Linked DNA regions of Homo sapiens: region 2 is linked to region 1. Evidence: fine-mapped QTL for protein levels in blood plasma. Region 1 holds a variant in brackets. A gene starts in the other region. All regions are shown on one strand. Distances are from middle to middle.

What was found. PIP is the chance, under the fine-mapping model, that this variant and not a neighbour inherited with it causes the effect. The UK Biobank Pharma Proteomics Project read protein levels with antibody pairs (Olink). The fine-mapping took linkage between variants from a reference panel, not from the people measured, so its PIPs are less certain.
Region 2: it holds the start of SELP, and the variant in region 1 is fine-mapped to the plasma level of the SELP protein (UK Biobank, PIP above 0.99).

What each region holds. Positions count from the first base shown.
Region 1 is chr1:247,540,625-247,556,990 of GRCh38, reverse strand. It overlaps GCSAML (germinal center associated signaling and motility like), which reads right to left and starts at 7,857. Exons shown (of 5, transcript NM_145278.5): 1 at 7,771-7,857; 2 at 525-584. The coding sequence starts at 7,799. The variant A/G (reference allele first, on the strand shown) is at 7,990.
Region 2 is chr1:169,623,452-169,639,817 of GRCh38, reverse strand. SELP (selectin P) reads left to right here and starts at 9,694. Exons shown (of 17, transcript NM_003005.4): 1 at 9,694-9,746. The coding sequence starts at 9,744.

The DNA of each region.
Region 1 (16,366 bases):
ATCAAATAAAAGGAGAATGCATGTAAGATAGTGGGTGAAGGTAGAGAGTGAGGAACCAGATGGGAGAGATGCAGAATCCAATCCTTATGGAACTGTAGGCCCTGGTGAAGAGTTTGCATTTTATTCTGAATGCAATGAAGAATGACTGAATGGTCTCGGGCAAGGAAAAGGCATAATGAGACATGTTTTCCAAAGATTATTCTGGCTACTTGTAAGGAAAAGGTGGGAAATATGGCCACCACATATAACCAACCAAAACCAAACATCCTTTATTCTATCTTTATGTTTCTACACTCACATTATATAATCAATAGAAACAAAACACGTGGCTAATACCCTGTCTTTCTTATTTAGACAGAGTCAATGTCTAACCTGCTGCCAAGTCATGCAGGTAATCACCAAAGAACTCTATTATAGCGGCCCTAAGGGGTGTTAGTTCTAGTGGGGCAGAGACTCTGGAAGTAATCTCAATGAAAAAACAAAACAAAACAAAACAAAAAAACTCTGAGATGCTCTGTTCTTACCGTTTTCTTTCCTCATCTGGGTTTCCTTTCTTGGGCTTCTTTTGATTCTCTCCCAGGCAACTATATGGAAACACATAAGAAAAAAGAGAGATTGTTACTGCCCTCCACATTTTTTCACCTTCTTCTCTAACTTTCTAGACCATTAAAACCAAACCTGACTTTTCTTTTTGACAAACTTCCCTTTCCTTCAAAATCAATAAGCAGTCACAGATAGAATGCATTTCAGAAATTAACCACAGAGACCAGGACTCTGATGGGACAGAATGCCCATAGTCTGACTTTTGATTCTGTCAGTCTTAGGATTTCTTGTGACCCAACATGCAAACTTCCTGCATCTCTAGAAGAGGTGAGAGCTCCCAGGAAGCTATAAAGACCTTAACAACAGGGAAGCATCACTTTTGCAACAACCTGAGGCAAGATGATCTGCTTGTACACACCTTTGTGGACTATGAGGACTGCCAGTCTTGGCCCACTGAACCAGAGCAAGCGTCTCTGGGCCCTGCTGCATGTGGGCATCCATGTGCAGATAAGACATTGGGATCTTTACATACATTCAGGAAAGCTGACTTTTTCATATTACTCTTGGTGTTTTGCCATCAATTATCATCATCTTTATGATAATCAGGCAAACACTAAATGACGAAGTTAGAGAAATCAGGTGATTTGCGTGGTTAACACAATAGTTAGCAGCTTATGTTTGTGACTTGGTTAATCAAACTTTCTACTCCACCAGTTGTCCACACATAGCATTTCCTTGATGGTTTTCTTTTCCTCTATTGTCACTTCTGCAGCACTGGTCTATCCTTCTGCTTCTAGGTAGCTTTGCATATAAGAGCCTCACTTCTGCTTACCAGCAGTATTCGGGGAAAGCATTTCGAACCAACGCTGAGAAAGTGCCTTCCCTGAATAGAGGTCATATGTATATGTTCAAGAAACATTGCTAGATATCAACACACAAAGCCACTAAGCAAAGAATATATTTGTTAAATATAAAGGAATATCAATTTACAGAGGTGGGGGCTTTTTATAGAATCAGTTGCTGATGTAGAGATTTTGTATAATAGTCACGATCACAGTCAAATCTGGATGTAATGTTTATTTAATAGTGTAGATTGTAAATCAGGTAAAAAGTAATTTAACTGTCTCCTTTTTTCCCCTTTTCCTGGAGTCTAGTTTTCTCACGATTCCATCTTCCTAAACTGGTCAATAAAGAAAGAATTTGGTAAAATAATTGTCCTTGGGGTTATTAGTGATTCATTGACTTACACATCTAAAGGATGTTTGTATTTTAAAGTTGAAAACAAGACAGGAAAAGTATTTAACATCAGTAGGGACCTAATTGGAATTCCACACCATTAATATTACTGAATATAACTGGATACTAAATTCTACTGTGAATAAAGTAAAAAGTGTTTTTCTTAATCCAGAGGAATTCAGATAATATCAGGCCATAGGTGATGTACAAAAATTTGTTGACCAAATTAATAAATCAACTAATACTCTATTGTTTTCAAAAATAGGTATTTTATTAAGCTTTAGATGTATCTTGGCCAAAGAATTAAGATTATGAATAATTTTTTATACCTTCTGTGTTTTTTCTTCTTATTTTTAAACTTTCTAAATGTTGGATGTTGACTTATGACTTCATAACTCTACAAAGAAAGTCTTAGTAAACATCCCCCAAAATCAACAATTTGCACATGATTTCTCCAACTATCAAGCAGTAAAATTAAAACCCAATAAGCTATAACCAAAAGTGTACCTGTCTAGGCACAAGTAATATTCTAAATAATCCTTATGTTAAAGAGGGAATCATAAAGGAACTTTCTAAAAACACAGAATAAAATAATAATGCAAGCTACACAAGACTATTTGAAGGATAAAGTGAAGTGTGAAGAAAATAGCTTGCTAAAATACATTCATAAGAAAACATAAATGACTAATAATGACAAAGTAAGCATTTATCTTAAGAAGTTGGGAGAAGAAAAAGGAAACAAGAAAGTTGTGGGTAAAAATAAATATGATAGGGAACCAAATCTTAGAAAAGAATAATATCAGTAAGATAGCAAAAGTCTGGAAAGACCAACTAAAGAAATAAGGAATGGAGACAAAAATATAATGAAAACAGAAAGTTCAAAATAAGTATTACAGACATAAAACAGGCATGATGAAGAATTATGTATAATAAACATTATGGCTTAAAATGAATAATATCTTGGAAAAAATGAAATATAAAAACTGACACATGAATAACATCAATAACAAAAAAATCCAGCTTACACAGCTGCGTACACAATTTACCAAACTTCAAGTGACAAATATACTCTCTCATATATAAGATGTTCCAGAAAGTAGAGAAATGTAAAATGATGCCAACCCATTTAATGAGATTGGTAAACTTTCATTTCAAATTAAATAAATCAAATTTTTAAAAATCACAGGTCCAACTCGATCATGAAAATAGATGCAATAATCCTCAATAAAATATAAGTTAACTAAATCTAAAACTATAGTAAAATTGCACACATCACAATCAAATGGGTTTTATCCCAGAAATTAAAAGATAGGTAATTAGCAAAAATATTTATTAACATAATTAACTACTTTAGAAGCCTAAGAGAAGAATCATGAGGTTATCTCAATAGTTTAAAACTGCATTTGATAATGTTTGGTCCTTATTAACAATAAAAACCCTCAGAAGAGCTGGGTGCAGTGGTGCAGGCCTGTAATCCCAGCTCCTTGGGAGGCTGAGGCAGGAAGATCACTTGAGGCCAGGAGTTCAAAGCTGTAGTGCACTCTGATTGCATCTGTGAATAGCCACTGCACTCCAGACCGGGCAACATAGTGAAATCTCATCTCTACATATTTTTTTAAAAAGTAGAATCTCCTTATTTTGATAGAGGCAATATGCCAAAAACATAAATGCCAAATATAAATGTCAAAAATATACAGCAACCTTGATGAAAACAATTTAGAAAAAAATTATTATGATCAGTTACAAGAAAATGATGCCTAAGAATTCTGACATAACTATGCTATAAAACATGATAAAGGTACCTATAAGACTTGTAAGGAACAAAAAAAGAATAGAAAAATCTTTAACTTTATAGATGATATATTAACTATGTAAACCCAGTAGGATTAAAAAACCATGAAAAAAAATGAGAAATTCAACAAGGCTAGTGGATACAAAGTCATCTTGCAAAATTCAATAGCATTCCAACAATAACAGGCTAGGAAAAAATGTCATTCATAGATTTATTACTGTTGCATATGGTATCTAGAAATCTATCTAACAAAGAATAAAATAAAAACAAAAAATTAAAGCTCTATCAGAATGCATTAAAGAAGATTTGAATAAAGATAATTATAAATAATTGTTTTGATTGGTGTATTAATAGTATATCTGCATAGACCAGGCGCAGTGGCTCACGCCTGTAATCCCAGCACTTTAGGAGGCCGAGGCAGGTAGATCACAAGGTCAGGAGTTCAAGACCAGCCTGGCCAATATGGTGAAACCCCGTCTCCACTAAAAATACAAAACTTAGACGGGCATGGTGGTGCGTGCCTGTAGTCCCAGCTACTCGGTAGGCTGAGGCAGAAGAATCGCTTGAACCTGGAAGGTGGAGGTTGCAGTGAGCCGAGATCATGCCACTGCCCTCCAGCCTGGGTGACAGAGCAAGACTCCATCTCAAAATATATATACATATAGTACATCTGCATAAACATAGAAGAATTTGCAAATAGATCTCTATATTCACAATGTTGTCTGAATCCAAATTCAAGCTGGCACTTTTTATATAATACACAAATTCAGAATTTGTGTACAAATTTATATGGGAGGATAAAGTCTTCAAAGAACTAAATCAATTTTGAAATAAAGACTAAAGAGGGTATGTGATGGACACTGCCCATGGGCGATGTCTACATTTACTTCACCCTCTTGCTAGTCAGGGGCTAGAAAGCAGCAGCTACCTTCCCCAGACTCATCTGCAGCCAATTATCAGGCTGCAAATTAGGCACTGCCCAAGGTAACAGGCCTCTGACAAGCAGGGTCAGAGCAACAGGAGGCTCTCTGCATCCGTGTTCTAGAGGCCATTCTCCAGCCTTCTCTCACACCACATCTGTGATCCCAATGACTGACACACACCAAGGTGACTCCTTGGGAATGCATTTACTTTCACTGAATTTCCTCTTCATTTTGGTTGTTCCTGATGAATTTCAGCTCTTTACCATCTCTTTGTTGGGGCTCAGAAAATGATACTCCAAAATAAAAGCCTCAGAAGCAGCTCTCTTTCTCCTGCCCTCCTCTCTGTGACAACTCTTTCCTACCCAGGGCTAGCCATAGAAATTAGAATCCCTCTTCCCCAAGGTGATTGATAGAAACCAGAACCTCTTTTCCCCAAAGCCAGCCATAAAATTAGTAAGATGACTCTAACTTTCCCTGTATCTTTCTGTGTAAGAACCAGCCATAAAGACATTATCTGACCTACTTTGTCTGACTGTAGGTCATAAGCCCCCATTCCAGAGAGTGTTCTGCCCCATACTCATAAGTAAGGAATGCTGTACAGAGAGGTCGAGAAGAATCTAAACAGACAGAACAAGACTTGCTGGGATTTTCCACTCTGTCTATTAGCATTAGGTCATATCCTTTTTGTCCAATCATATTTCCACATGGCTATCCAAAATTTGTTGAACCTAAGCATAGAAATGGACAGTTTCCTTTGCATCTTTGGGTCTTCATTCTGAGGTTCCTGTGTCACATAAAACGATGATCAATAAATTTGCCTTTTGTCCTATTAATCTGCCTTTTCTCAGCTGATTTCAGAGAACCTTCAGGGAGCAAAGGGGAAGTTTTCCTTTTGCCCCTGCATCTTCTTTGGTATATTTTAAGAGCTTATTGTCTATTTCTCTCTGTGTCATTCCTCCATACTCACTGAGCATAGACATTTCTTCCTAAAATACATGCCACATTGCATTTTTCTCCAGCTTATAAATGTTCACTGCTTACCACTTTCTACGTGCCTTTGAAGGCCCTTCATTATCAGACCCCCAGCTTCATTCTCAACTTCTTCTGCTACTGGAGTCATCTCTGAACAATATGCTCCAATTATTGACAGTAATACCATACACTTGAAACTCATACATTTTCACAGGTTGTCCCTTCAGCTTGGACCATCTTTTCCTGCTTTGTAAGTCTGCCTAACATTTACAGCACAATCCAAATGGCAATTCCTCAAGCATGTCCTTCCTTCCTGCTATCCCAAACCAGAATTCCCTTCCTTCCTTCCTTTTATTTCTACAGTGCGCTGTTTGTGCTTCTGCCTAGAACACATTAGCACCTGCCTTATCTTAAAAAGAAGCCATTGTGGTGTAATGGAAATGACGGATGACTTGACATCATAAATTACATGTAAGATTCATAATTTTATAGCAAAGGCAACCTTGACAAGTTTTAATTCTCTCTCAATTTTAATTATCTGAGCCACGTAATGTCTATTTTTTTAAAGCTGAGTCAGAGTGATTAAGTACGATGTTCTCTGAAGGGGCCTATCCATTTTTAAAATTTGCTTCCATATCCATTTTCCTTCCATGTTTAATTTTTTCTTGCGACCAAGACCATTGTCTTACCTAGGCTTTCCATAAATATTGCTTAACTTTAAAAGAAGGGAAACATTTTTTCTTTAGGGTAAATAATTGAATTTACCTCTCAGCACAATTGTGTCATTTGTCCTCCATCTACTGCCCAGACTCATGCTCATCCTGAACTTTGATGGCCCTTCTCCATCCATGAACCCTTAAGCATTTTTTTTTGTTTGTTTGTTTATTTGAGACAGAGTCTTGCTCTGTCGCCCAGGCTGGAGTGCAGTGGCGGGATCTCGGCTCACTGCAAGCTCCGCCTCCCGGGTTCACGCCATTCTCCTGCCCCAGCCTGCCGAGTAGCTGGGATTACAGGTGCCCACCACCACGCCCGGCTAATTGTTTGTATTTTTAGTAGAGACGGAGTTTCACCGTGTTAGCCAGAATGGTCTCGATCTCCTGACCTCGTGATCCACCCGCCTCGGCCTCCCAAAGTGCTGGGATTACAGACATGAGCCACCGTGCCCAGCCACCCTTAAGCTCTTTAACAAATAGCAATTTACTGAAAGACTAAATGAAGACATCAAGGGACAGCTGAACTATTTAACCTGGTGAAAGGAGACGGTATGAACCATCAGGTGTGGGGAAGCCAATCTGCTGCCTCATAAAGACAGCTTCTCTGACCTACTTTGTTTGACTGTAGGTCATAAGCCCCCATTCCAGAGAGTCCTCTGCCCCATACCCGTAAGTAAGGAACGCTGCACAGAGAGGTCAAGAAGAATCTAAACAGACAGAACAAGACTTGCTGGGATTTTCCACTCCGTCTATTAGCGTTAGGTCATACCCTTTTTGTCCAGTCATATTTCTACATGGTACCCACTGGAGCACAGGAGCGATATGATGAGAGTTTTGCCTTGGGTCTATCAATGTAGTCACGTCATATGCAAGATTGTCTGGAAGGGGACTGGGAGAGCGGACAGAGGAGTGGGATGCTGTAGAGCCCATCATTTAAGATTAAGCAAGATGTAAGAACAATAATGCCTGTTATCTGTACACATTCTATAAATTATGAAGTATTGGAAGAGTGTAAGGCTAAACATTACCAAAAAAGGTGTGACTAAAGTCAAAGGCATTCAAATGCATATCCCGCATCCATAATTTGCAAGGACCTAACTGTTCATTCTCATACCAACCCACGAAGCTGATGGATGGAAAGTTAAGCTCTACACCCACATGAAGAAAAAGAGAAGCAGGAAAATTCAAGTGACAATTGTGTAGGGTTGCCAGATGAAATACAAGATGCACTGCTAAATTTGAATTTCAGATAAACAATGAATAACTTTTTAGTAAAGTACAACCCATGTTATAATGCCCAAAATATTATATGAGGCACATTCATACTAAAAAAAAAAATGTTTTTCTGGAATTTGAATGTGACTTAGCATCCAGTATTTTTGTTTTCTACATCTGGCAACCTATCATTGTTCCAGAGTAAGGCAAGAGAAGGAGCCAACTGGGCGTCACTGTGTGCTCCTAGAGGATGCTGTCTTCAGGCTTAACCTTCTAGAAGCACAATGTACCTCACCATTACAAATGCGTTATGTCCAGCCTCCTTATCTCTGTTCTCTTTCTCCCAAGAAAGGCGGCACCAAGAGTCAAGACTCACCTGAGTTTTCGCAGGAGATAATTTCCCATCTTTTCACAGTGACTCGGTTTCTCAGCTCCTGAGTTTCACTCCACTTGGGGAAGTTCTGACCAAAGCACCAAGAGGAAAATGCATGAGGCAGGACGTTGCATCTGACCACGGGTTCGTGCTCTTGCCAACCACGAGCTGCCAGGGGCCTGCGCATGATAGAGAAGGCAGGAAGAGCTCGAAAGGGGAGGC[A/G]GAAAGGAAAATGTGAGTGTGCGTGTGTGTGCCTGCACGCACACACACACACTCATACACACACGCGTGGGCATACAGTGGGAAAAAATCAGGCTGAAACATGAAAGTGAATCTATCACTCCAGGTTCACTTTGCTTTCAAGGAAATTCTAGTATTGCAAGACGAAACAAGGTAAGGACTTCCCTATTCCTCCGAAGTGAGCATAATAATAAGATTACACAATGCAATAAGAGAGTTGCATTTTTGCTGGAATAAAAGTGATTAATCTGGATTCATGATTTCTTAGGCAAACTGCTCATTACAGAGATCTGAGATCTCAAGATTCCAAATATGTTGTCCTCTTCCAAACATACAAAGAGAAAGCCTCTTCTTGGGGAAAAGAAAAAAACAACGTTAGAAATAAAATTTCTCTTTGTGGCTCTAGCAACGATAATCAGATCAAATGTCAATAGCCTTTCCTCAGAGGTCTGATACTTTCAAAGACAAGATGGGAAAGAAAAAGGAAAAAAAAGGATGAGAATAGAAGGTTATCAAAATTATTTGGGGTAGGTTAAGAAGCCATTGTTCTGGTTGTCAGCTCAAAGACTAACATGACAATGGGGAAAATGCAGGGCCTGGAAGACCTGTTGCCAGCATCTGGTCCCCCACTTCCTCCCCTAGGCTGCCCACCAGAGCCACAAAGCACAAGCTGGTTCTAGTGATAATTTCGAGGCCACAATATCAGCGGCAGGAGATCAGCTAACAGCTGACTCTGAGCCGTGGCTGTCAGGAGACTGAAATCGCTTATTCATGATGTCTCCTGCCGAAGGATTTATACCACAGGTGGTTGATTTTCTTCAGCTTCCAACCAACACAAAATCTATTTGCTGAAATCAGAAACTATATGCTCACCTATTCCAACTCTTTTTTTCTCCCAATGAGGAAATCAGGACTGAGGAAGTTTAATTGACTGTTAACCAGCAGCAGAACTCAGGAGTCTGGAGTGCTTTATCATTATTTATAAGTTTTGTATTGTTTATTTATCGATTATAAACATGAGAAAAATATATTACAAGCAGGAATGTCACACACCCCATTTCAGATTTATGATTTATCTAATTCGTATGTGACAACCTATGTACCAAAGTGCTGCTTCCCAAACTTTCTCATGTAAGCAAATCACCCGAGGATCCTGTTAAAATGCAGATTCTGACTCTTTCAAACTGGGATCAATATTTTGCCTTTCTAACAAGTTCCCAGGTGATGCCACTCCAGCCAATCCATGGAGCGGTAAAGGCACTAAGAAGCGTGTTCCGCCATTGCTGTCCTTGACCAGAAACACCGGCATCTCTGAGAACTTATTAGAAATGCAAACTCTCAAGATCCACCTAAAACCTGCTGAATCAGAAACTCTCAGGGGTGGATTCCTCCTGTTCCCTACTAAAATTTGAGAGCTACTGAAATAAATCTTTGTTTCTCTTATCTGATTACTCACAAATAAGCTCATTAATCCTCAAATGCTCAAGTAAGTAGCTCCATGTTAGTTTTTAGTCACCGAATGACAGAAATGTGGTAACACGAAAGGTTTCCATCTTTTCAGCACCTCTAACTCCCATTCTGTCCCATCCTAGCATAAATTGGTCTGGTAAACAAATCTCCTGGAACTCACGTTCTCCATCTGCAGAATGGATAGGAGCTACGTGAAAGGGAGTCTCAGTAAGCCGTAGGTATCCTGCCATTATTATGGCCATGGCTGCTGTTTGAGAACAAAGACATGCACAATATTCAACTTGATTTAAGTTCTCAATGCCATGTAGAAAATTAAGTACAAATAAGAAAAAATAAAATATTTAAATAACCCAGAATCCTACTACCCTCAACTACCTTCTTGTGCTTTTTTGTTTGTTTGTTTTTGTCTTTGAGACAGGGTCTTGTTCTGTTGCCCAGGCTGGAGTACAATGGCATGATCAGGGCTCAGCTGCAGCCTGTACCTCCCAGACTCAAGCGATCCTCCCTCCTCATCCCCCAAGTAGCTGGGAACACAGGTGTGTGCCATCACACTAGGCTAATCTTTTTTTTTTTTTTTTTTAATTTTAGTAGAGAAAAGGTCTTGTTACGTTGCCCAGGCTGGTCTCAAACTCCTGAGTTGAAGCGATCCTCCTGCCTTGGCCTCCCAAAGTGCTGGGATTACAGGCTTGAGCCACCACATCCAGCCCCCTTGTGAATTCTGGTGCACACATTTATCATCCTTGCTTTGTGAAAACAAACATGCACCCATTGATTTAAAAGTTTCCAAAAATAGGATCATCCTTTGCACATAAGTGTTATCATGCCATAAAATACAGTTTTAAAGACCATTTTCAGCCGGGCGCGGTGGCTCACACCTGTCATCCCAGCACTTTGGCAGGCCGAGGCGGGTGGATCATGAGGTCAGGAAATTGAGACCATCCTGGCTAACACAGTGAAACCCTGTCTCCACTAAAAAAAATACAAAAAATGAGCCAGGCGTGGTGGCGGGCACCTGTAGTCCCAGCTACTCGGGAGGCTGAGGCAGGAGAATGGCGTGAACCCGGAAGGCGGAGTTTGCAGTGAGCCGAGATCGCGCCACTGCACTCCAGCCTGGGTGACAGAGCGAGACTCGTCTCAAAAAAATAAAAATAAATAAAAAATAAAGACCATTTTCTCAGCCAGGTGTGGTAGCATGTGCCTGTAGTCCCATCCACTTGGGAGGCTGAAGCAGGAGGATTGCTTGAGCCCAGGAGTTCGAAGCTGTAGTGTGCAATGATCATGCCCGTGAATAGCTACTGCACATCAGCCTGAGCAACAGAGCGAAACCGTCCCATCATTAGACAAAACAAAACAAAACGAACAAACAAAAATTTATTTCTTTCTTTCCTAGCTTTGTTGATATATTGATATAAAAGAACGTGAATATAATTAATGTACATAATTTGATGAGTTTGGACATATGCGTACATTTATGCTACCATCACCACAGTCAAGGTAATAAAGATATCTATCATCTCCGACAGTTTCCTTGTAGCTCTTCGTGATTTTTTCTTTTTTCTTTTTGTAGTAAGAACAATTAACATGAGATCTACACTCTTGACGAATTGTTAAGTACACAATACCTTATGTTTAACTAGAGATACTATGCTGTAACAATGAGAATGAAAAGGCAACCTATGGAGTGGGAGAAAATATTTGCAAACCGTATATTTAATAAGGGGTTAATTACCAAAAAATTTAAGGAACTCACACAGCTCAATAGCAAAAATAACTAAATAAACAAACATAACCCAATTTTGAAAATGGGCAAAGGTACTGAATAGACACCTCTCCAAAGAAGACATACAAATGGCCAAGAGGTCTTTGAAAAGATACTCAACATCACTAATTATTAGGGAAATATGAATCAAAACCACGATGAGGGCTCTCATACCTGTTAGGATGACTATGATTAAATACATTTTCTTAACATCATTACTAATGGGTGCAAAGTACCCCTTTGCATAATCATCATAATGATAGTTTTCAACCAGTTCTTTTTTTGTTGTTATGTCCAGTTTTTCTGTTGCAATAATGCTACAGTTAATATTCTTACAAATAAATCCTGACAGTATTATTGACAGTGCTTATAATTGTTAATACTAGCTGGCAAATTTGCCTATATAAAAAATTGTACATATTTGTAATATTAAATCTACAACAGGAGTTGCCCACCAGAGGAGTAGGAGATCTTGTCTCAGTCAGTCCTGCAAGGCATGGGGCCAGACCAAGCACGTGCACTGAAACAGGGCATACCTGTTGACAGCGAGTCCCTGCTCATTTGCAGATAATATTGGAACCAAAACCAATTCCTTACCTAAGTACAGGGTAGAGAAACAAACTCTCAAATCTGACTCAATTATTTCATTTTTAAGGAATGACCAATAAGATGAGAATTAACCAATGAAAAAGCTAGCATTTCACCAAATGGGATATTTGGCTTCAAATGTTTTCAATGTCATTGCTTGACTACATTTAAATCTTGTTGTATTTGTTGTATGATAGAAAAAAATTACCTCAAATTTGGTAAAAGGCAAAATGAAGATTGCTTGGTTATTTGTTGTTATTATTTCATACTAAAAAAAGTTCTTTTTTGTTTTTGTTTTGTTTTGTTTTTGTTTTAAGACAGGTCCTGCTCTGTTGCCCAGGCTGGAGTGCAGCGTGTGATCTTTGCTCACTGCAGCTTCAACCTCCCAGGCTCAAGTGATTCTCCTGCCTTGGGCTCCCGAGTAGCTGGGACTACAGGGCATGCCACCATGCCCAGATAATTATTGTTTTTGTTTTTTTTGGTAGAGACAGCGTTTTGCCCTGTTGTCCATGTTTCCATGTTTGCCATGTTGTCTTGAACTCCTGGGCTCAAGCGATCCACCCACCTCTCAAAGTGCTGGGATTATACGTGTGAGCCACCCTGCCCAGACAAGAATTTTCTCATTAGCCTAATTGATCCTCATGTGGAACTTGTGGGGAATGTACCTTTGTGGTCACAATATATTTGCAAATCTAAATGGAAGGTTTCTCTTTATGACACCACTTGCCTGAATATATCACAGCTGAGAGTTGTGTTTCCCTACGTGCAGCTGCCGGGCAGAAGCTGTTATATGAACAGAAACTTCGAAGGATATAAAACCCAAAGCTAATAGTGTTGAAAAACTTGGAGAGGTCTTATTTACCAACTCTTTTAGAATCAGGACCTAACTAAAAATGTTTTCCTGACTGATGAATGATACAATTCGGTTTAACAAGCTGTCTACAGATCTGTGGCCTAATTCTGTCCTTCCAAGCATGCAAAATTTCGACCTTTCATCAGCACAGCCATCATGAGCTCTCTCTCTACAACCTCACATGAAGTTTTCATTCAGCAGCCTGCTTGGTGTGTTTCTTTTAGTGACATGTGGTCCTATCCTTTATCAGTGATCAACTCAGCTTGTTTTTCAATGCTCTGGTGCCCATTGTTTTAATTGTTTGACATAAGAATTAGCAACTTATAAAGGTTCTCTTGTTCACATAAAATTAGAAGTTAAACCAGGGTGACGCACACTTGTAGTCAGTCCCAGCTACTCCAGAGACTGATATTAGAGGATCCCTTGAGCCCAGGAGTTTGAAGCTGCAGTGAGCTATGATCATGCCACTGCACTCCAGCCTGGGTGACAGAGTGAGACTCTGTCTCTAAAAAAATTTTTTTAATAAGATTAGAGGTTAACCTGCAGAAATTGATAAGTTACTACCAATAACTTATGGCTGGTAGAGAAGCAAGTAGTTTTGATTTATTTTAAGTAGAAAGTTAAATAAATTCATATATAATTTAGTAATCTTAGTTTGGGTATTTGTTTCTGGAGTAACTCCATATAAGTCCCTATTATTCAAATGCTTTTAGAACCAGCTCTTTTGACTTTCTGCTTTGTCCACGATAATTACTATAATACAGTGTTCCGCCTTATCCATGGGGGATAATTTCCAAGACCCTCCCAGTTCAGTGGATGCCTGAAACCGTGGATACTACGGAACCCTGTATATACTATGTTTTTCCTATACATACTTATGATAAAGTTTAATTCATAAATTAGGCACAGCAAGAGATTAATAATAAAAAATAGAACAATTATAACAATATACTGTAATAAAAGCTATTTGAATGTGTGTTCTGTCTCTCTCAAAATACCTTATTGTAGTACACTGTGGGTAACTGATAAGGGGGGCTACCATAACAATAAATACTAATATATCAATAACTAATGCTTTGACACATGCTTAATAACAACTTTGAACATCTTGTTCTTATGCTTCCAATTGAAAGACATACTGTACTAGAGACAATTACTTATATTATATCCAAACGATGGGCATTTCTTTAGCCTTGTTTTCAAGGGCACTGATTCTAGCCCTGAGACTGAGTAAGGCCAGCTTGGTGCTCCCTGCTGACTCCGCTGTTGATTAGATCCTGCAGTTAGGGAAGCTAAGGACAGATATTTGGTTGCAGAATATGTGCTTCCTCATATTATTCTGGTCTACAGCTCTACACAGATCCTCTGTCTTCTACCAGGTCTCATGCAGCTTGCTGCCAACTAACTGTAGACAATTACTCCTCCACTGATTATCTGGGGCAAATTCTATTTTTTATTTCCTACGTATTTTACATATTCTTCTTGGTAATTTTATTTTGGACTAAGTAGAATTTTAATAATTCTAGTCAAATAGTCATTAAATTAGAAGCCCTTGTTTGCTAAATTCATGACATTCTTTGTAGAAGAGGAGCTTTCACATCACAGGGGTGACTAGATACTGTAGTTTAAAAAATAACCTGTTTCAGGCTTAGTTTAGGTAAAATTAAAATGTCAAGCAACATCTCCCTTCATGAAGTATGTAGCAAGTAAAATTTAAAGATTTTATTGATACTGAAAATTTCAGGTTTGCATAAACCCAAAACCTAGAGAGCAATTCGCTCTTCTATTTGAGGTATTTGGACACTCAAAGTACATTTAAAAATGCAAAGTCTAGAACAAAATATACCTACAAGAACTGAATGATCCACTTTGGGATTTTCTGTGCAATTATTTCCTTCCACCTTTTCCATATGCTGCTCCTTGGACCACCAGTATTCTACAAGGAGTTACTTTGCATTGAAAATATCATACTGGCATACATTTTCTTTCATTTTCTTTGCTTTTTACTTCTTTCTTCCTTTTTTTAAAAGACAAGGTCTCACTGTGTAGCCCTGGCTGAGATGAACTGGCTATTCCCAGGCATGATCAGAGCATGCTAAAGCTTAGAACTCCTGGGCTCAAATGATCCTCCTGCCTCAGCCTCCCCAGTAGCTGGGACTACAGGTATGCACCACAATGCCCAGCTTGGCTTGCATTTTTTCTAAAATAAATTAGTTGCGGTATGAAAACACAAAAAGCATATTTATTAGTTATTAGTTTGTCTATTCATCTTTTCTTTTTCCTTTTTTTTTTTTCTTTTTTTTTGAGACAGAGTCTCACTCTGTTGCCCAGGCTGGACTGCAGTGGAACAATCTCGGCTCACTGTAACCTCTGCCTCCTGGGTTCAAGCGATTCTCCCTCCTCAGCCTCCTGAGTAGCTGGGACTACAGGCACGCACCACCATGCCTGGCTAATTTTTGTGTTTTTTGTAGAGACAGGTTTTCACCATGTTGGGCAGGCTAGTCTCAAACTCCTGACCTCAAGTGATCCGCCCACCTCAGCTTCCCAAAGTGCTGAGATTACAGATGTGAGCCACTGTGCTCAGCCAGGTTTTTCTATCCATCTTTTCTAGGAGTCCTCTGCCATTCTTAAAAATAGAAATCCCTATTACTGCTCACCTAAGGGTTTTTCTATTTCAAGAAGCAGCCGGGTTTCAGGCCAACATCTCAAATTTGGAGTGTCTGTGTGTTTTTTGACTTGTAGTTTGATTTGAAAACACCATTCATTTTCTGTGTGCAGGAGACCTGATTTTTTATTTGGGCTCCACCTTGGTTCCATCTGCACCCCAGTTTCAGCCATTTGGGGATGAGACTGAGTACTCCATATAGGCCATGATGAGACCGTGCGGAAAATACCGACATATAATGAATAGCTGAATTAGTTCTCAATATTCTACCCCACCAACTGTGATCCATATGACATGGGAGGCCAAACCTACTGCTTTGCTCAAGGATATACCATGGAAACTTGAGTTCTGAGAAGCTCAGTTGCTGGGAAATTGCCAAAAGACATTAATTATAAGCAATGCATTGCTCTAACTAGCAAGAGGCATTTCCTTGTTGTTTTAATAGCTTCAATAGGAAAAAAAAAATTGAAAAAGCTTTTGCAAGAAAATAGTCACAGGATTTATAATTTAAACCAGCATAGGTTTAGACAAAACTATGACCAAATGGGTAAAGAAATGTCTGGATGAAAAAATAAAAGGCTTGAGTAGTGTAACTGTCACTTAAAAGAATATTTGTGTCATTTTTGAAAAAAATTCTTTTCAGCAGTTTCTTTTATTTTTAATACTCAGTAACTCAATGCCTTCTAAACAGAAATAGAGAACATATAAAAATGAGGATATGCAAGACATTACAACTTTCTCAAAGGCTCTTGAGTTTTTTTCCTTGCAGGTGGTTACAGTTTAGGAAATGCATGAATGACAAATATTTGGTAGTGGAGTGATTGTATTCTACGTGAATTGAAAAGAAAAGAGAAACTGCAAAACCCGGAGTGCAGTCTTATCCTTTCTAATCCTTCTGACGCGTTGCAGAAAGCTTGCTCGTTTGCAATAAAGTAAGGCCTCCCTCCCCCACTTGCTCTTGCATCCCCACAGTGGTCACTGCCCCCACCTTCAGTTCATACATCTGCTCACACATCAGCACTCC
Region 2 (16,366 bases), 78 Mb after region 1:
CTTTCATTGTACCACATTCTTTTCTTCCTGAATTTATTTGTGTGATTTTTATTTAATATCTGCTCCCCCACCCCCAACAAAACCATGGGCTTCATGAGATATACTCATGACTGAATCCCTATGCTAGCACACTCTCAGGAGTCTCAAAGGGACTTAGCTATTTCTTGTGTATTTGAATGCACCAGTGTAATGAGATAAATAGAATTCAGAGAGGAACATGGGAGGGAGCACTTTCATTGTGTCCCCTTGGGGTCTAATGAATCAACCAATGAATCAACAAGTATTTGCTGAGTGTCTCTCTGCCCTCTGCTAGATACTTCAGGTGATGGAAGATTAATATAGGAAAGGATCCCTGCCCTCTGGGAATGTATGGTATAATCTGAAGACATAAAAAAAATACAAACCAGATATATAACACTACTAATTAAATTATATTGGAATTATATCCCATTTTTAGTGACAACCCAAATTTTCTACACAGATTATATCCATATGAGAAAATGGTATTGAGCCTGAGTAGCTTTTAAACAAATTCAGTTTTTTCTTCTCATTCCTATTCCTAGAGATTCTTCTTTTTCATTTTCTTTTTTCTTTATTTTTGGTGGGTATGTGTATATGTATGTATGTATGAATTTAACTGTAATTGATAAATAAAAATTATATATATTTATGGTGTACAACACAATGTTTTGATATATCTATACTTTTGTGAAATGGCTAAATTAAGCTAATTAACATATCAGTGACCTCACATTATTATTTTTTGTGTGATGAGAACATTTACAAGCTACTCTTTTTGCAATTTTCAAGTACAGATGCCCCTCAAGTTACAATGATGTTACATCCTGATAAACCCATCATCATAAGCTGAAAATGTTGAAAGTTGAAAGTGCATTTTCAACTTACGATATTTCCAATTTACAATGGGTTTATCCAAGCATAACCCCATCATAAATCTATACTGAATAAATATGGCTCTTGCACCATGATATAGTCAAAAATCCTAAGTTGAAACATTTTATGTCAGGAATCATCTGTATATAATACATTGTTATAAACTGTAGTGACCATGTGGTACAATAGATCTCTTGAACTTACTCTTCCTAACTGAGACTCTGTATCCTTTGACCAACATCTTCCGAATTCCCACACCTCACCTCCAGTCCTTAGTAACTACCTTTCTACTTTCTGCTTCTATGAGTTCAGTGTTTTTAGATTCCAAATATAAGTGAGATCACATATTGGTCTTTCTATGCCTGGTTTATTTTATTTAACATAAAGTCCTACAGGTTCATCCATGTTGTTGCAAATGACAGGATTTCCTTCTTCTTTTTTGGGTTTTTTTTTTTTTTTGAGACGGAGTTTCACTCTTGTTGCACAGGCTAGAGTGCAATGGCGCGATCTTGGCTCACCGCAACCTGCACCTCCCGAGTTCAAGTGATTCTCCCGCCTCAGCCTTCCTGAGTAGCTGGGATTACAGGCATGTGCCACCACGCCTGGAAAATTTTGTATTTTTAGTAGAGACGGGGTTTCTCCATGTTGGTCAGGCTGGTCTCAAACTCCTGACCTCAGATGATCCGCCCGCCTCGGCCTCCCAAAGTGCTGGCATTACAGGCGTGAGCCACAGTGCTGAGCCAAGGATTCCCTTCTTTTTAAAGACTCAGTAGTATTTCATTGTGTGTATATACCACTTTTTTTTGAAAGCCGTTTGTCCATTGACAGACACCTAGGTTCATTTCATATTTTGGCTATTGTGAATAATGCTGCAAAAAACATGGGAGTTTAGCATTTCTTTGACATACTGATTTCATTTTTTTTTTTTGGCTACATACCCAGTGGTGGGATTGTGTCATATGGAGGAAACTCCATACCATTTTCCATAATGGCTCTACCAATTCGCATTCCCAGCAACAGTGTGCAGTGGTCCCTTTTCTTTGCATCCTTACCAACACTTGTTATCTTTCATCTTTTTATTTTTTTTTTTGAGACAGAGTCTCGCTCTGTCACCCAGTCTGGAGTACAGTGGTGCAATTTTGACTCACTGCAAGCTGCAAGCTCTGCCTCCCAGGTTCACGCCATTCTCCTGCCTCAGCCTCCTGAGTAGCTGGGACTACAGGCACCCTCCGCCACGCGTGGCTAATTTTTTTGTATTTTTAATAGAGACGTGGTTTCACTGCGTTAGCCAGGATGGTCTCAATCTCCTGACCTCGTGATCCGCCAGCCTCGGCCTCCCAAAGTGCTGGGATTACAGGCATAAGCCGCTGCACCCAGCCTTTCATCTTTTTTATAGTAGTCATTCTAACAGGTATGAGGTAATATCTCATTGTGGTTGTAATTTGCATTTCCCTGATGATTAGTCAAATATTTTAAATATACCTGTTGGCCATTTATATGTCTTATTTGGAGAAATGTCTATTCAGGTTCTTTGCCCATTTTTAAATTGAGTTATATGTGTGTGTGTGTGTGTGTACGCGAGTGTGTGTGTGCATTTTGCAATTGAGTTTCTTACATATTTTGCATATTAATCTTCTATCAGATACATGGTTTGTAAATATTTTCTTCAGCTCCATAGGTTGTCTCTTCACTCTGTCAATTGTTTCCTTTGCTTTGGAAAAAGCTTTTTAGTTTGAAGTTATCCCATTTGTTTATTTTTGCTTTTGTTGCCTGTGCTTTTGTGGTCATATACAAAGTCGTTGCCAAGATTAATGTCATGGAGCTTTTTTTTTTTTTTTTTTTTTGAGACGGAGTCTTGCTCTGTCGCCCAGGCTGGAGTGCAGTGGCGTGATCTCGGCTCACTGCAAGCTGTCATGGAGCTTTTTATGTGTGTTTTCTTCTAATCGTTTTATAGTTTCAGGACTTATATTTAAGTCTTTAATCCATTTTCCTTTGATTTATGTATGTGAGACAAGAATCCAATTTCAAGCTTCTTTATATAGATATCCAGTTTTCCCAATATCATTTATTAAAGAGACCCTCCTTTCACCATTGAATGTTCTTGGCATCTTTATCAAAAATCAATTGACTGTAAATGCATGAATCTATTCCTTATCTTTCTACTATGTTTCATTGGTCTAAGTATCTATTTTTATGCCAGTATGCTGTTTGAATTACTATAGCTTTGTAGTATATTTTGAAATCAGGCAGTGTGCTGCTTCTAGCTTTGTTCTTTTTGCTTAAGATTGCTTTGGCTATTCAGGATTTTTTTGTGGTTCTATATGAATTTCAAGATTGTTATTTTTTATTTCTCTGAAAAATGCCATTGAAATTTTGATAGGAATTACATTGAATCTGCAGACTGCTTTGGGTAGTATAGACATTTTAACAATATTAATTTTTCAAATTCATAAATATGGGATATCTTTCAATTCCTTTGTCTTCTTCAATTTGTTTCATGGTTTTCAGTATATAGATCTTTTATCTTTTTGGTTAAATTTATTCCTAAGTGTGTTTTTTTGTAGCTGGTATAATGAGATTATTTTCTTAATTTCTTTTTCAGATAGTTTGTTGTTAGTGTATGAGAAACACTGCTGATTTTTGCATGTTGATTTTGTATCCTGTAACTATACTAAATTCATTTATTAGTTCTAAAAGTTTTTTTTTATGAAGTCTTTAGGGTTTTCTACATATAAGATCATGTTTTAGGGTTTTCTATATATAAGATCATGTTGTCTGAAATCATAGACAAGTTCTTGTGATTTGGATGTCTTTTATTTCTTTCTCTTGCCCAATTACTCTGGCTTGGATTTCCAGTACTGTGCTGCATAGAAGTGGCAAAAGTGAATATCCTTGCCTTGCTCCTGATCTTACAGGAAAAGCTTTCAACCTTTCACTATTGACTATAATGTTAGCTGTGGGCTTATGTATATGGCCTTTATTTTGTTGAAGTTACTTTCTTTCCACACCTGAGGGTATTATTCCTTCCTATTGCCTGAGGGCACTATTCCTTCTTTACCAATTGTTATCATAAAATTATGGTAAAATTTGTCAAATGCTTTTTCTGCATATATTGAGATGATTATATGGCTTTTGTCCTTCATTCTGCTAATGTGTGTATCACATTTATAGATTTTCTTATGTTGAACCATCCTTGCATCCCAGGGGTAAATTACACATGATCATGGTGAATAATCCTTTTAATGTGATGTTGTTGCTTTGTAGTTACTGTGAGACTTAGATAAAACATATAATAGTTATAACAGGCTATTTTAAGCTGATAAAATTTAACTTCAAGGATAAAAAAACTCCACACTTTTACTCTCCCTCCACATTTTATAGGTTTTTAATATTTTTCAGACTTTATGCTTTTGATGTTATAATTTACATCTTTTATATTGTGTATCTGTTAACTTATTGTGGTTATAATTATTTTTAATAGTTTTGTCTTTTAACCTTCATTCTAAAGATATAAGTGATTTATACAGCACAATTATAATATTGGAAAATTCTGAATTTGACTGTATTTTTATTTTTACCTGTGACTTTTATACTTTCGTAGATTTTCATGTAATTAATTAACATCCCTTTCTTTCAGCTTGAAGAATTCCCTTTAACATTTCTTGTAAGGCAGGTCTCGTGTTGATGAACTACCTCAGCTTTTATTTGTTTGGGAAAGTCTTTATCTCTTCTTTATTTCTGAAGGATGGGACTCTTGGTTGGCAGTTTTTTCTCTTTCAACACTTTGAATATATCATCTCACTCTCTCTGGGCCTAGAAGCATTCTGCTGAGAAATCTTGTGATAGCCTTATTGCAATTCTTGTCTGTGATATGCTTCTTTTCTCTTGCTGATTTTAGGATCCTGTCTTTGTCTTTGATTTTTGATAGTTTGATTATTATGTCTTGGTGTAGTCTTTTTTGGATTGAACCTGACTGGAGATTTTTAAGCTTCCTGTACCTGAATATTAATATTTTATTTCAGATTTGGGAAATTTTCAGCTAGCAATCTTTAAATATGCTTTCTGACCCCCTTTTCCTCTATTTTCTCCTTCTTAAACTACTGTAATGTGAACATTAGCTCTCTTTTTTAATTTTTAATTTAATTTTTGTTTTTATTTTTTGAGATGCAGTCTCACTCTGTCACCCAGGCTGGAGTGCAGTGGCATGATCTCAGCTCACTGCAACCTTTGCCTTCTAGGTTGAAGAGATTCTGCTGCCTCAGTCTCCCCAGTAGCTGGGATTACAGGCATGTGCCACAATCCCTGGCTAATTTTTTTGTATTTTTAGTAGAGACTGGGTTTCACCATGTTGGTCAGGCTGGTCTTGACTCCTGACCTCAGGTGATCCACTCACCTTGGCCTCCCAAAGCGCTGGGATTATGGCATGAGCCACTGAGTCTGGCTGAATGTTAGCTCTCTTGATGCTGTCCCATAAATCTTGTAGGCTTTCATCATTTCTTTTCATTCTTTTTTCTCCTCTCACTGTATATTTTCAAAAACCTGTCTTCAGTTCACAGATTCTTTCTTCTGCTTGATCAAGTCTGCTACTGGTGATTTCTACTGCATTTCTCACTTCATTCATTATATTTTTCAGCTCCAATTTCTTTTATGATTTCAATCTTTCTGTTACATTTCTTATGTTGTGCATTTATTGTTTCTCTGATTTCACCAAATTGTTTCTCTGTGTTTGCTTCAAAGTAACTGAGCTTCTTTAAAAACAATTATCTTGAATCCATTGTCAGGCCATTTGTAGTACTCCATTTCTTTTGGGTCAGCTACTGGGAAATTATTGTGTTTCTTAGGTGGTGATATTTTAATTTGGGTTTTCATGTTTCTTGCTGCCTTACACTGCTGTCTGAGCATCTGGTGGATCTGCCCCAATTTCAGGCTGTATGGGCTGACTTTGGTGGAGAAATACCTTCTTATGTGGAATAATGCGAGGATGCTGGCTGGGTGGGATGCAAAAGTTCTGACTTCAGTAGGGGCAAAGCTGTGTGGTCTCCATGCAGATCTGTCAGCTGAGGTTGGTGTTAGTGAATACTACAGGGATCCTTAGAGGCCAACACTGTGGGTATCTACAGTGGCAATGAGGCTGTTGAGGTTTTCAATTGTGACAAGTCCTCCATATCTCTTTTTTTCCCCACCTGGGAAGTCATGACTGAGGACATCCCTCTTGGAATTAGGTCTAACTTGCAGGCCTGCTCCTGGTGGTGGTGACACTGGTGTCTGATGAACAGTGCCCATGGAGTGGCCAAGAGCCAAGGCCTGAAGCATGGGCATGCATGGAGGGACCACAGCACCAGATTCAATTGTAGCAATGGTACCAGTGCCCAAGGCACAGGCATACTTACTATCACATTGATAATGGTGTGTAAAATGCAGGTACTTATAAAGCAGCTAAGGAGCCAGGGACTTTACTGCATGCATACGCAGAGCTACAGTGGCTCCAGGATCCAGGGTGTGGGCTAGCTCTCCTTGGTGGCTGAGCTGGTGACTAGAGCATGGACAGGCACAGAGAAACCTTGACTCTAGGACCCAGGGTGTTCACTAGCTCACTATAGTGGTGGCTCTGGTGTTGGAGGTGTGGGTGTGTGTAGTACAGCCTCAGAGACAGGGTCTGGAGCGCAGGTGTGCACATTACTACAGCAGCTCTGGAGTTGAGAATATGGGTTACCTTTCTACAGTGGCTGAACTAGTGTCTGGAGCAAAGACTTTCACAGAGAGAACTTGGCTTGGGGTCCCAGGGTGAGATCTAGTTCACAACAGCAGTGACTCCAGTGTCTGAGACATGAGGAGGTGCACTGCAGCCACAGAGCCACAGTCCAGAGTGTGAATATCTGTAGAGCAGCCACAACTTTTGGGGATCAGGAACACACATAGACTTGTGAGAGGTGGTAACCCTGGCCCCAGTCCTGGGGCAGTGCAACAATAGCTGCTTCTTGGTGAGGGGGTGTGAGGGGTAGTGCAACTGTGTTTCCCTTTTTAGCATCCTGCTATGGGAATGGCTGTTGGATAAAAGATGCCAGTGTCCTCTGTGGAGCAGGACACTGGGGGCCTCAGTGGCTCTGTGTCACATGACTGACACAGATAGCCTACAAATTTCTTTATTCGTAGCTATCTCCTGGTGTCTCATATATGCCAGTCTCACCGGTGATTCTTCTACATGGATATTCTTTCTTTTCTCCATTGTGTTGTTCCAAATTCTTTAACAGGCTCTTGAGCCCCATCCCCCAACTCCCCACCCTTGTGAGGGCTATTTTGGTTTGTGTATAACTGTCTATGTTTGTTTTTTTGTTGGGGCATAAGGCTGACATCTCCTACTCCACCATCTTGCTAATGTCACCTGCATAGGAATCTTTTTATGCTTTCCTTATATTCACTAAAATTTAACAATATCAAACTTAAAAACATATGATCAATTGAACTTATTAATATCAAACTTATTATAAATAAGAAACTACCAGGCTGGGCATGGTGGCTCATGCCTGTAATCCCAACATTTTGGGAGGCTGAGGTGAAAGGATCACTTGAGCCCAGGAATTCAAGACCAGCCTGGGAAATATAGAGAGACCCTATCTCTAGAGATTTTTTTTTTTAATTAGCCAGTAGTGATGGCACACATCTATAGTCCCAGCTACTCAGGAGGCTGAGGTGGGAGAATTGCTTGAGCCCAGGAGGTCAAGGCTGGAGCAAGCAGTAATCATGCCACTGCACTCCAGCCTGGGCCGCAGAGTGAGACCCTGTCTCAAAAAAAGAACCTACTAGTCTACATACCACACTTCCTCATCCCCATCTGAGACTATATATATTTTTTCTAACATGAGGCAATGCCAAAAAGAGGGGCTGGTGAGTGAAAGTAAGAACAGAAAGACATGGAGGCAAGTCTTATAGAATAATAGCCAACACTTAAACTTACACTTAACAGCGTGATAGGTATTGTTCCAAACACATTAAATTCATTTAATGGTCCTTACATGTCTATGTATTTGGTGATTATTATCCTTATTATTCACATTGCTGAGTGTATTATTCTGTTCTCATGATGCTGATAGAGACATACCCGAGACTGGATAACTTATTAAAAAAAAAAAGGTTTAATGGACTCACAGTTCCACGTGGATGGGGAGTCCTCACAATCATGGTAGAAAGCAAAAGACACGTCTTACATGGCAGCAGGGAAGAGAGAGAAATGAGAACCAAACAAAAGGGGTTTCCCCTTATAAAACCATCAGCTCTCATGCGACTTATTCACTACCATGAGAACAGTATGGGGGAAACCACCCCCATGATTCAATGATCTACCAGGTGCCTCCCACAACCTGTGGGAATTATGGGAGCTACAATTCCAGATGAGATTTGGGTGGGGACACAGCCAAACCACATCACTGAGGAAACTGAGTTATAGGGAGATTAGTAACGCCCAACACAGCTGGTAGGTGGTGGAGCCAGGCAGTCTGACTCTAGGGTCTGGACTCTGAACTGCATCATGCTGCCAAGAAGTTCCTCATTTTTTCCTCTCTCTAAGTTTCCCTTATTCCCCTACAGTCATTCCTTCAACAGCATTTCCTTCACCATCTTTTCTACTTCTACTATATAATTAATTTTTTCTTCTTGGTCCCAAATTCCAACGTGCAAATGCAGCCTTATATACCCTAATTCATCTTTACCTTTAGACTTTCTTCCAATGTTTCTACTTCATTCCATTTTAAATTTATCCATGAGATGCCTATTTACAAGCTGTAACCATCATGAAGTGAATGAAGAATAATACCTACTACTGTACAATAGAATTCCAAGAGTATAAATAGGAGTTATGGCTTTCTGACTTGAAACTAAATACTTGATACTTGATTTTGCTGTCTGAGATCAATCTGAAAAGTAATAATAATCACTAACATTTGTTGAGCATCAATTGTGGGCCAAGTGTCATTTCAATCACTCTGTACATATTAACTCATTTCATCCTACAACAACCCGGTGAGGCAAGTTCTGTTATTCTGTTTTACAGTTGAGGAAACAGAGGCATAGAGAGCTTAAGTAGTTTGCCCAGTAGATAGCCAGAAGAGGAGCCAGGATGGGTCTCGGGCAGTTTAACAGCACAGCTGAAGTCTTAACCACTATGCCAACAGCTTTTTGGTCCTACACATCCCATGGGAAGAGGAAAATAAAAAGGTATCTATTTGTATACCTTTTTATTTCTGATATAAGAAGCAGAATTCCTTTCACATGACCTATGTCTATTTAATACGTCATTTTGAAACTTACCAATAAAATTTCCCAAGCGCCAGAAAACTGTTAGTGGCTTTTTCCATTTCTCTCTATTTTTTTTTGTGCTACTAATTTTGCTTCTTTCCCTCAGAAGGCTGCCGGAATAGTAAACATTCACTGACATGTCATAATTACTGGAAAATGGGCACTGGAAAATCACATTGTAATTAATTCAAAGCATGTTTTCCAAATGTACTACTTTAAATTGGAGCTTATATCATAATCCAAGGAAACCTTTGTGTGTGTACTGTTCCCACATTGCTCAGCCTGGGATATCCAGGAGTAATTCACCTTGCGCCTGCCTCCAGACCATCTTCCATGGAAGGGGGTGACCCCTTGCCTCTTGGCAACCACTATTTCTAAGCTGCCAACATTACTCTTGCATTATCAACATTCTAACTTCATGGGAAGGGCTGTGGTGAGTTTCTGGAATGTGAATAGGAAGTTGTTTTTCTAAACAGCCTGACACTGAGGGGAGGCAGTGAGACTGTAAGCAGTCTGGGTTGGGCAGAAGGCAGAAAACCAGCAGAGTCACAGAGGAGATGGTGAGTTTATTTTTTTCTGCATGGGAAGTGGTTGAAGTGAGTTGGAGTGGTATGGAGTAAAGTCAGGCAGGTAAAGGTTCAGAAAGTGAGGAACAGCGATAGCCATGGAGTTTTATGTTGAATTGCCTATTAGATTTTGTGAGTACTTTTAAACTTGCTGTCCACTTTGACCCTCCCAACACCCTTGTGAGTTGAGGTTGCTATTTCTATTTTACAAATAAAGCCATCGTGGTTTACAGAGGCTGTGTTTTATCTAAGCTTCACTGTTAGGCTACATGATGTTGGGATCTGGGGCCTGTCCTCTGGCTCCGCAGCTGCTGTTCCTCCTACTAGAATTTATAGGGGCTCTCTGAGAATAGATCATGGTAAACCTGTCACCCCATTTTCCAAGACTGTACTTCTCTCTGGGATAAATGATGGAATAAATGGAAGACTGGGTAGGTGCCCTGGGACAAGCTTACAATTGAATAGTTTCTCATCCCCATCCCTCCCATTTCTTTCTGTGAGCCTATGAATCTTCTGGGACTGATCTGGAATATCCACATAGTTTCCTTTTCTGCCCTAAGACTCAATCTTGTTAATGACTCAGTTTCTTCTTCTATAAAATGGATATAGTAATAATACTCTATAGTTTCATCATGAGGATTAAATAAGATTTTGCTGAAAAGCATCCAGATCTGAGCCTGACACATAGTAAGTGATTAGTAAATGTTAGCCATTATTGTTACAATAAAAAGAAAATTCTTAGGAATAGTGGGGTTTAGGATTCAGGGAAGATCCAAGGATAGCTAGGCATTTTGAACTCAGCAATGTTATATGCTCATGGATAAGATGCACGTGGTTAGGCTACTTCTAATTCAGGGAAGATCCAAGGATAGCTAGGCATTTTGAACTCAGCAATGTTATATGCACCTAGATAAAATGCACATGGTTAAGCTACTTCCAATTTTCCTCAGACTTTCCAAGAGTATCCCACATAGTCCCAGGGTCCGAAATCCTGCAGTCTGTGGCTATGGAGGAACCAGGCAGGTCTCTGTTTTTGAGCACCTTTCTGTGGGACTCCAGAAAAAAGTACCGCATACACCTGATTCATCCTACTGCTTTGCTTTACTATAGCACACTTTTCAAGTACTTATAATGTGGGTTTCTGTGTTGGGGAAAACAGGAATAAGAGTATGATAAAGAGAAGAGGAAGGAGTTTGAGCCTGTCTTAAGTTTGAACCACAATGACCTAAGGATATGAATTACTTTTGTCCTGTCTTTTTGCATGTCATACTTCTGAATTGGTTAACTTAAATGAGCAGTTATTCCTCTCTTCCTTCTACTCTCCTTGGCATCCTCCTCTATTTCAAAGGTATGAACTTATTGGATCAGAGAGTTCTTTGAGATTTTGATGAAAGTTACAACTTGTCTTTCCCAGATGAAAGCAAAAACATCGACATAAACACCAACCTTTAGAGACAACCACAGGAGGTTCCCAGACCTCCATGTGGATCCCAGGGTAAGAACCCTTCTCGATTGCCTCCTGGGCTTTATGTTCAGAAGCCCCTCTCTTGGTACCCTGAAATTAGGCTTGAGCTCTACAGCGAAGTGCTAAGGCCCCAGCCCTGGAATGGTTTTTAATATTTCAAAGACAAGACCTCTTCCTTTTCCTCTGAGCACATTTGGCCCCAAAGATTCAGAAACCTCAAACTGCCTGTGTAAATTTTGCTTCAAGTTCAGAGAGTGGCTTTAATTAACTTTTAGGACCTGAGAAAATGAGGATAAGGTTTTTCTGGTGGGGTATTTTCAATCAGATAGATCTCAGAGGAGTAGCTCTTGATTGGGAACTTATAGTTAAATTGCACTGATGTTTGTCAAAGTTTTAGCGGGCTATGGCCGGGCTCAGTGGCTCATGCCTGTAATCCCAGCACTTTGGGAGGCCGAGGCGCATAGATCACTTGAAGTCGAGAGTTCAAGAGCAGCCTGGCCAACATGGTGAAACACCATATTTACTAAACTTACAAAAACTGGCTGGGCATGTTGGCATGTGCCTGTAATCCCAGCTACTCAGGAGGCTGAGGCAGGACAAACTCTTGAACCCAGGAGGTGGAGGTGGCAGTGAGTTGAGATCACACCACTGAACTCCAGCCTGGGTGACAGAGCAAGACTTGTCTCAAAAACAAAACAAAAAAAAAGTTTTAGTGGGCTAAGGAGCAGGTCTGGATTTTCGTCCATTTATACCTTTTAACCACCTTATGTGGCTTCCAGTCCTTACTCTTCTTTTCATTACCTGTTTTTCAAAATGCAACTAAAATAGTTCAGACTCTCCTGGGCTAGCCACCAGCTCTTAGAATGTGCATCTTCAGAGATCTTTAAGTAGAAGCTTATTGATCAAATCCTCAAAAATCAAAATGACTTACTACATAAAAAACTGTGTTTAGAAAAAACCCTGGACCTAAACCTAGAGAGTAGGCACACAGTGGTTTTATAAATGACATTCATTATATTGTCTTCAAGGTGTCTAATCTTTTTGATTAAAAAGTAAATCAGAAACTTCATGAAGTCAAATACAGAGCAAATCCTCACTATTTGTAGAGATATAACTCATCTCTGATCCAATAGACTTTTTAAAAAATTTTAAGTGTCGTACTTTATTTTTAATGCTAATATTTTACTCAAAATAATGGCAATTGGTAGTCTAAATTAAATATATGCTTGGATTCTAAGTGTTGATGTCCTGGGTCCCTTCTTGTCTATATTCATAATTTGCTCTTTGGCTTAGAGACAACCTCTTTTCTCACTGTATTTCTTTTTCCACCCCTAAGCTGGGCTACCAATATCTGTGCCACACCACTAACACCACCACCGTCCAGAAACATAAGGGAACTAATGTATTAGCTGTAATAGCTTGTAACATCTGGGCTTTGCTACCAACAAGTTGTATAGTTCTGCATCCTCAACAACTCTCATATTCACCTCCCCTATTTGCATTCCCACTGATGCCAGACCAAACCTGTCCCTCTTTAACTCTCACTGGGACCATTGCAATAGCCTCTTCTTTTGCAGTGCAATCTCCCTGATTGTAACTCATTTAAAAAAAAAAAAGTATCGCACTACTCTCACCCCTATAATATCAGCATTTTTGGAGGCCAAAGAAAAAGTATTGCTTGAGCCCAGGGGCTCCAGGCCAGCCTGGGCAATATAGTGAGAACTTATCTCTACAAAAAATTAGCCGGGTGTGGTGATGCATGCCTGTAGTCCCAGTTACTCAGGAGGCTGAGATGGGAAGATCACTTGAGGCCAGGAGGTGGAGGTTTCAGTGAACCCAGATCATGCCACTGCACTTCAGCCTGGGCAACAGAGCAAGACCCTGTCCCCCAGCCCCACAAAAAAAATCATACCACCATTAAGTGCATGTGTTCATGATACTTCTCTGTTCAGAAGTATCCCTTCTGCCAACTGGTATTTGTGACCCACAAGATATGGTCTCAAACTACCTTTTCAGTTAACCTCTAGGATCTCCCAATCTTCAGCAGGCTGGAGTGCAGTAGTGCCATCTCAGCTCACTGCAACCTCTGTCTCCTGGGTTCAAGCGATTCTCCTGTCTCAGCCTTCTGAGTAGCTGGGATTACAGGCATGCGCCACCATGCCCAGCTAATTTTTGTATTTTTTAGTGGAGTTGGTTTCGCCATGTTGGCAAGGCTGGTCTTGAACTTCTGACCTCAAGGGATCTGCCTGCCTTGGCCTCATAAAGTGTTGGGATTACAGATGTGAGCCACCGTGCCCAGCTTCCGTTGGCTTATCATTGCACTTAGAATAAAATCTCATCCCCTTGTTTTGGATCCCAAAGCCCGATGTGATCTGTCACTACCCCCGGCTCGTATTTTTCTCTCCATTGCTCATTCCATTCTGGCCACACTAATGTCTTCATGTTCTTTGAACACACTGCAGTTTGCTTCCACCTTAAGGCCTTTGAAATAGCTTTTTCTTCTTCCTTTAATGCTCTTCTTCCTGCTTCTCACTGGCTGGTTTCTTGCAGTCATTCTTCTCTCCACTTAAACATTATCTCATTAAAGAGGTCTTCCCTGACGTTCCTGACCAACATAGTGACACAGTCATTCTATCACATAAGTTTCATTTCCTACCTAGCACTTATGGCTATATTCTGTTAATATTTTTCATGTTTACTTGTTTAGTACTGTTGTGTAGTTATTAGTATTTGTTTCATTGTCTTCTCTACCAATAGAATGTGCATTCTATGAGGACTGGAATTATGTCTGTTTTCACCATTTTATTTGTTCACTTAGCTATTATCACTACTGTAAAAGTAATGCATTCAGTTATAATTATTATGTATTTTTCCAACATTTTCTTATTTAGCATATTTTTGTCTTACTTTCAGTTATTCCTCTGCCATTATTCATTCATATATTTATCCATAAAATGTTTATTGAGTATTGAGTATGTGCCCTACCATGGCTGGGGATTCAGACCTGAGTAAGTAATAGTCCTTGCCCTTGAGAAGCCTCTGTCAGTAGCTTCCTCAGCTGTATGCTCACATGTTTGTTGCGCATTTAAATTGTGGACCTCCTGCTCAAGAGAATATTCAGAAACGGAGATGCTGATTAGAGGACATTGGAAACAGATGACCATAAGGAGGTCATCTTTACTTCCCAGGAAAGCAGAAGAATGAGAAGAGAATAGGGCCATGGAGGTGGGAACCTAGAGAAACACTTACCTCTGCAAGGGAAGGCAGAGGATTGAGGTAGATTCAGAAGAAGACTCAGAAAAGTTTCTCAAACATTAGAGCAGAAGAACAACAGAAGAGCTAAGGGAAGCATTTTAGGCAAAAGGAAGTAGTGGTATTTACTGCTACAGAAAGGTCAAGGAAGATAAGGGTGGAAAGTCTTCATTTGGTTTGGTAATGAGGATGTCAGCAATGAAGTTTGCAGGGACACTTTGATAGGATGGTCGGGCAGTGGGCTGGAGAGTAAGGGGGAGGCAAGGAAGTTAAGAAAGTTTAGCTATAAGAGGAAGGAGAGAAACAGGCAGATGTGGGCAGGAGGACAAAGGGTCAAGGGAGGGACATTGTTTGATTCCGCCTTTCTAAAAGCACAAAGCTGTGGTCTACAATGTAGACAAAAAGAACAAGATCTCCTTTCTGTGGCACTATTCTTGCCAACTTTGTAAGCCACCTGGAACGTGGCAAGCCATGGGACACCTACTAGCCTCTGGTACCTCCTTGTGTGAAAAGTTAGGTCAAGGCATTTGCTTCTTCCACTTTCTCTCTGCTTTTCTCTTCACCCTGCAATCATTATTAGTTTTTTTGCTTGTTTGTTTGTTTTGTTTTTTGAGAAAGAGTCTCACTCTGTTGCCAAGGCTGGAGTGTCTCGGCTCACTGCCACCTCTGCCTTCTGGGTTCAAGCGATTCTCCTGCCTCAGCCTCCCAAGTAGCTGGGACTACAGACATGTGCCACTATGCCTGGCTAATTTTTGCATTTTTAGTAGAGACGAGGTTTTACCATGTTGCCAGGCTGTTCTCGAACTCCTGACCTCAAGTGATCTGCCCACCTTGGCCTCCCAAAGTGCTGGGATTAGAGGCATGAGCCACTGCACCAGCCCAGTTCTTTATTAAAGTAAAATTAAAGATAATCATGGTACTTAATGAAGGCTTACACAGGCACAGGATGTTATTCTAATGACCCAGTCTCTGACTCCTTTCCAGCAACTTCCAGTTGAACCAGCCTTCCAGAGAACATTAAAGACTAGCAGAGCATGTGGATGCTTCTAGAGAGGAATTTCCTCTTGTTTTAGTATTTAACTTGCTTAGTAACACAGGACAGAGCAGCATCCTGCAGACTATAATGCAGAGTAGGAGCAGGTATGAGAAGGCCTGCCCACCCCAAGCAGGTTTCAGAGGAAAACTGTTACTCAAAGAAGATTTTTAAACATCATCCATTCTCCATACCTCCACACAAAATCCCTATCAGTTGCCTTACAGTTAACACAGAATCTTGAACTTGGGCCACATTAAACATGGACAGACTTAGTAGGTCATGAACCATCTGAGATTCTCTAAACTACTGCAAGCATGCATTTGTTTTGAAGAAATCTGACCACGGCTTTTATCAGATTTTCAAAATTCATAAGCCCTGGAAGAATAAGAATAACTGTGTTAACCCTATGCACATTCATGTGAGCAAGCTTGGGCAAATCATTTACGCTCACTGAGTCTCAGTGGTGGGGAGTGGTGGCTGCCCCATCTTAGGCATTCGAAGTCTGAAAGACTTCCTGCAGAACAGCAGATAAATGCTAAGTTGGCTTGGAAGTGACCTTTATGTTCTCCTATAGCTCTGAAATAACCTGTAAGAGGTGAATCTTGGTATTTGGTGATGCATAGAAACAGAAAAGTATGTCAGATTAAAGCAGGGGATGCACACTGACTTGCATTTTCCTTTCTTAGATGTTGTGCCTTCATCAAAAGCACTGTACCAGTCCTCTAAAACCTTCAAATGTTTAAAACAAGTTGTCTCGCTCTCTCTCACTTTGTTTTATCTTGTGTGGTAGAGAATTTGCTGATGAAATTTTGCTTAAAAAAAGTTCAAACAAACAAACAAACAGGTTAAAATGGGAAACAT